Linked DNA regions of Homo sapiens: region 2 is linked to region 1. Evidence: fine-mapped expression QTL. Tissue or cell type: skeletal muscle. Region 1 holds a variant in brackets; the other region holds the start of a gene. All regions are shown on one strand. Distances are between the middles of the regions.

Region 1 (2,909 bases):
GCAGTGGCTCACACCTATAATCCCAGCACTTTGGGATGCTGAGGCGCGTAGATCACCTGAGGTCAGGAGTTCAAGATCAGCCTGACCACCATGGAGATACCCCGTCTCTACTAAAAATACAAAATGATCCAGGTGTGATGGCACATGCCTGTAATCCCAGCTACTTGGGAGGCTGAGGCAGGAGAATTGCTTGAACCCTGTGGTGGAGGTTGCGGTGAGCCAAGATCGAGCCATTGCACTCCAGCTTGGGCAACAAGACCAAAACTCCATCTCAAAAAAAAAAAAAAAAATCATTGGCCAGGTGCAGTGGCTCATGCCTGTACTGTAATCCCAGCACTTTGGGAAGCTGAGGTGGGCGGATTGCCTGAGCTCAAGAGTTTGAGACCACCCTGGGCAACATGGTGAAACCCCGTATCTACTAAAATACAAAAAAAAAAAATTAGCTGGGCATGGTGGCATGCTCCTGTAGTCACAGCTACTCAGGAGGCTGAGGCACGAGAATCGCTTGAGCCCAGGCGGCAGAGGTTGCAGTGAGCCAAGATCGCGCCACTGCACTCCAGCTTGGGCTACAGAGTAAGACTTGGTCTCAAAAATAATTAAATTAATTTAATTTAATTTAATTTAAAAAATCATGCAAGTAGAAATGACTTTTTCCCCCTTCTATCAATAAAATGCTGCCCAGAATGACTAGCTTATTTTCTTTTTAATTGAACCCAAAAGAAGCTTCTAGTATGGAGCAAGTCTGGTGGAAAAGCAGCATATCTCCCAGGAGAGAAGGGAAACGGAGCAGGGCCAATCATCAGGTGACAGTGCAGTGCTACTCATCACCATCATGAAAAACTCATGAGCGTCAGACGCGCCACAGGGATTCCTGATCAGGTAATATCTGCTATTATTATGACAAGCTCCATAGAAAAATGTAGACAGCAGGGCAGAAAGACATTATTCTTTATAAATAAAAGGTTCATCTGTGCAATATTCACATTAGAAAAATATACATTGCTTGCCATAGACCTTCTCTGGATAAAATCAGACGAATCTAGGATCTGACTCCACTTCACTGTGAGGGCTCTGGCTCCACGGTGACGACCGACTCCACAGCTTCTAGAGGAACTCCTTCTAGCGGGCCCATCCGCAGGCACGCCCCTCTGCATCAGTCACTGTGACAATGTCCTCCTCCTGAGACACTATTGTACCTGGAGGGGACAAGATAAGCCCATCGGAAGTCTGAATAAAAATCTGCTTCTGTCCCTGAGACAGTAACTCATGGCTCCCATTGGAAATTTCAAAAGCCATGGCTTCGCC[G/A]ACAGCAACCACGCTCTCCAGTTCTCTCTGGCCAGAGTGCACCTCCATCCCACAGGGGAACCGGTTCAAGTCCCCCGAAAGGCTTCTGAGACACCCTTCAGTCAATAGTGATCCATGTGGGCCAGGCTGAGGCCCTGGCTTGGGCACAGTCCTGTAGGCACAGTCCACTGCCACGCTATCCACAGACAAAATTTTCTCAAGCGGAGGGGCTGCCACCTCTGTAGGCAGGACGCTGGTGGGGCTGGGCTGCTGGTGGTTCAGGTGGAAGTCACAAACCTTGCCGAGGTGTCCTGCCTCTGCATGTCCAGGCCCCCCAGGCGGCAGGGACTCTGCTCCACCACCAGATGACAAAGGGCTGCAGAAACCCGGGCTCCTCAGGCTGTCCCAGGTGTCCTGGTCTGAAGAGTGTTCCAAAGCATTCTCTCCAGGAAACGCTGCCACCTGTGCCTGGGTCAGCCTCCTAGGCTCTCCTGACTGAGCATAAACAGGCAGCCCACTGACATCCCGGGATGAGAGAGCAGCACCTATAGACCCCCTCCTGGCTTCTAAGTTAGCCAGTGCCTGAAGCTGCGGGCCCGCCTGGAACACGCTCCCATTGCCACCAGAAACCGTCGTTGTATGGCTTTCTTCAGAACGGGGAGAGACAGTCACATTTACTGGAGGGGAAAAACCTAAACATTTTGGGAAACAGGTGAACATGGCGTGTACTGTGTCATGGCCCACTCACTGCACTCACCACCCAAAACCAGCTAGGCCAAGTCACCTGCCCTGCAGAAAAGTCAAAGCATCGATGCTCCTTGCTCCTTGGGATTGGTAGCAATTTTAAAAAATACGTCCCTATTCTCTATTCACAAAGACAGATTTTGTATTAAAAATATGCTCTAAGAGCCAATCGACAGTGTGCTTTTTTTTTTTTTTTTTTTTTGAGATGGAGTCTCGCTCTGTCACCCAGGCTGGAGTGCAGTGGCACGATTTCAGCTCACTGCAGCCTCCACCTCCTGGGTTCAAGCAATTCTCCTGCCTTAGCCTCCTGATAGCTGGGATTACAGGCATGCGCCACCATGCCCAGCTAATTTTTGTATTTTTAGTAGAGACAAGGTTTCACCATGTAGGTCAGGCTGGTCTCAAACTCCTCACCTTGTGAGCCACCCGACTCAGCCTCCCAAAGTGCTGGGATTACAGGCATGAGCCACCACACCCAGCAACAGTGATTTTATGCCAATACTGAATGAATGATTGGTGATTCTTCATCAGAGTGAGCTGGAGAATCACCCAAAGAGGCCTTTCCAAATACTCACATCCACACCCTCCCAACAACCCTACCTGCAGACCTGGAATTCCCAGAGGTCCAGGCCCCTGTATTTCACAATAACCTCCCCAGGTGGTTCCAACACATGCCCCAATTAAGAATCACCATCAGGCTGGGCACGGTGGCTGCTCACGCCTGTAATCCTAGCACTATGGGAGGCTGAGGCGGGCAGATCATTTGAGGTCAGGAGTTCAAGACCAGCCTGGCCAACATGGGGAAACCCTATCTCTACTAAAAATACAAAAATTAGCCAGATGTGGTGGTGGGCGCCTGTAATCCCAGCTACTCAGGAGGC
Region 2 (2,909 bases), 22 kb after region 1:
GTGATAGTGTGGCATCTGGACAGAATCACACTGGTCTTCCTAAACCTTAGCAAGACAACTCTCCAGTCTTGATGATTAACTGGATACAACCCTAAGCAGCTAACATCAGTCAAAAAAACTCAACGAGTGAAGGTTCCTGATTCTATTCCCTAACCCGTTTCTTCTAGTGGAAAAAGCTGTCTTCTTTTGGCAATTTTGGGGTGAGACTAATTTTGTTTACAACCCCAGCGCTGAAATGGGGTGGAATTTTACAGATGCCGTGTAGGCCCTCTGGCTTCAGGCGCTATGCTTCACCCTCCGGAGTTGGGCGACCGTCTTCTAGTTATCACCCCCCTAGCAACCAAAAGGTGTGTGGCCCAGGAAATAAACCCACTGGGAAAGGATGTTTTGTAGTATACAGAGTGCTTTCACATATTCCAAACATTGTGTATCAGGCACTGTGCTGGGTACTGCGGTTACAAATCAGTCACTATCACCCAGGATGTTAAGTCCTGCAGCGAACTAGTGTATTGTGCTTGACTTTGTTCCAAGCCTGGGCCTTGGCACCTTACAACTGAAAAGCTAAGTTGGTTCCTTTTAATTCATTTATGTTTCAGCTCCAGTGTCTGGCCTACGGGACCACCCACTCTAAAGCAGCCCCCGTCAATCCCAGAACCTGCCTTATGTTCGTTCTTCAGCAAGTGTGTTCAAGGCTTCACCTCCTGCACATAGTGGGGAGTGCTGGGAACACGGTCTCTAAGTGCTCCACAAAGGCTGAACCAGCGGTGAAAGGCCTGTAAGAAGAGCTAGGGAGCACGCAAAAGCCCCCAGCAGGGCTGTGAAGGCAGAGAAGGCACGAGGGCGTTCCAGGCACAGGGCCCAGCGTGAGCAACCGCTCCTAGAGTGAGGCTCCTGGGGTGAAAATGCCAGGGTGGTGACAGGTGGGGGCCGAACGCCGTCCCTAAGAAGCTCAGCCTGGGGACGCCCTGAGTCTTAACCCGGGCGGATACTGGCCTCCCCGGACAAGCAGCTACCCCGCCGCGGGGCGTCGGCCCCCTTCGGGCCTCAGTTTCCCCACGTCCCTCCCGACGCCTCACCTGGGGCGGGAGCAGGCGCGGCAGGCGCGGGGGCTCGGTGCCCCGGCCCCGCTGCAGGGCGGCCTGTTGGGCCGCGTCCCGCAGCCGCCGCGCCGCGTCCCGCAGCACGAAGGGGGGCGGCGGCGGCGGCGGCTGCGCCTTCGTCACCTGCTCCAGGACCTGCCGCAGCTGCTCGGGGCCCAGCGGGGCCACACGTGCGACGCTGCCGCTCTGGCCCGGAGGAGCCGGGCCGCCGCCGCCGCCGCCATCCTCGCTGCCGCCCCCAGCCTCCGGCTCCGCATCCGCCATGGCGGCCGAGGCGGGGACTCGAACCCGGGTCGCTGAGCGACGGCGTCTCCAATGTACGTCACCTAGGAGAGGGGCGGGCTACGAGTGCCTCGCAGGCCAAGACACCTAGGAAGGCGACCGTGTCTGGCCGGGAAAGTCGTGGAGTGCCCCGCCCCAGCCGACAACCGCCGCGGCTCTTAGGGCTGATCAGCAGAGCGGACCCCCCTTATTTTCCTTATTGCCTGTCACGGATGTGTTTAAGACTCACCTTCTCTGGGAGCTGTCCCGGATCTCCCAGGGGGAGGTCTTCGGGGTTTCAGAGCCCCTGGCCCAAAAGTTACCACAATATCCAAGTGTTCTGACGTCATCATGCATCCGAATCAGCGGAGGATGCTGTCTGGAGATGCAGAGTACTGTGCCCACCCCTAAACATTTGGATTTATACATCTGGGAGGGGACCACAGTTTGAATTGTTAACGAGAGTGTTTCCCAAATTTTTGCCTTGTCACCGTAGCTTCTCTCTACCCACCCACCCAGATTGGGTGCACCTTGAAGGGAGAGATGATATATTACACAATCGGTGCCCAGCACAGGCCCTGCCCAGAACACAACGCACGCTCAGGGCATGAATGATGGATGGATGAATATGAATAAACGAATGAGTGAACGAATGAATGAACCCACCCTCTCTCTATCCATCCAGCTCCACTGCCCCATCTTCCTCAGCCTGATCGCCTCTCCTTCTTACGGTTGAGGCTCTGTGCGCCCTCCGAATCTTGTAGCTGCAGGTGTGTACACATGTCCCAGCTCCTTTCCCCAGGGAGAGCAGGAGGTCCACTGGTCCACAAACCCTTCTTAAGCACCTGGTGGGTGAACCGCTGTTTCCGCCCTGGGGGGTATACAGTCTAGGTGCCGACCCCCAAGGAGGAAACTTCCCAAGGGGGAAGGAGGAAACTGGCATTTGCAGCACAGTATGATGAGCGCCGAAGCCGGTAAAGTAAGGCTGGCGGCCTGGGTGGCGTCAGAGAAGGTTCTGGAAGATCACCACCATCCTCATCAATACTCACATTGCATTCACGATGATCCCTTCCGTGTTATTTTTTAATGGTGAATTTTATATTATGGGTATCTTACCACAATTTTTTTTTTTTTTTGAGACAAGATCTCACTCTGTCACCCAGGCTGGAGTGCAGTGGCACAATCTCAGCTCACCGCAACCTCCATCGCCTGGGTTCATGCGGTTCTCCTGCCTCAGCCTCTTGAGTAGCTGGGATTACAGGCGTCCGCCACCATGCCTGGCTAATTTTTGTATTTTTAGTAGAGACGGGGTTTCATCATGTTGGTAAGGCTGGTCTTGAAACCCTGACCTTAGGTGATCCGCCCGCCTCGGCCTTCCCAAGTGCTGAGATTACAGGTGTGAGCCACCACACCCGACCAGATTTCAGGAATTCACATGCCTTCTGCTCAAAATAATTTTCATGCCACCGTGGCATATTCTAAACCCCTTCAAGCTCAGGAAACTTGAGGGCAGCAACCTCCACCGATTCCTCCATGCTGTGTCCCTGC

Alleles and levels. Alleles are on the strand shown, and positions count from the first base shown. SD is a standard deviation of normalised expression in the study named.
With allele A in place of G in region 1, the expression in skeletal muscle of the gene that starts at base 1,384 in region 2 is higher (small effect, 0.30 SD a copy in GTEx).

Evidence for each region. PIP is the estimated chance that this variant, and not a neighbour inherited with it, causes the effect. A credible set is the group of variants that fine-mapping cannot tell apart.
Region 2: it holds the start of ZNF839, and the variant in region 1 is the best candidate, but not a certain one, in a credible set for the expression of ZNF839 in skeletal muscle (GTEx, PIP 0.84).

What each region holds. Positions count from the first base shown.
Region 1 is chr14:102,340,390-102,343,298 of GRCh38, reverse strand. It overlaps ZNF839 (zinc finger protein 839), which reads right to left. Exons shown (of 8, transcript NM_018335.6): 8 at 932-1,976. The coding sequence ends at 1,120. Among named protein-coding and RNA genes, the nearest start is that of CINP, 21 kb to the left of the region's middle. The variant G/A (reference allele first, on the strand shown) is at 1,306.
Region 2 is chr14:102,318,221-102,321,129 of GRCh38, reverse strand. It overlaps ZNF839 (zinc finger protein 839), which reads right to left and starts at 1,384. Exons shown (of 8, transcript NM_018335.6): 1 at 1,077-1,384. The coding sequence starts at 1,364. RefSeq lists an enhancer at 765-874 and silencers at 975-1,164, 1,225-1,324.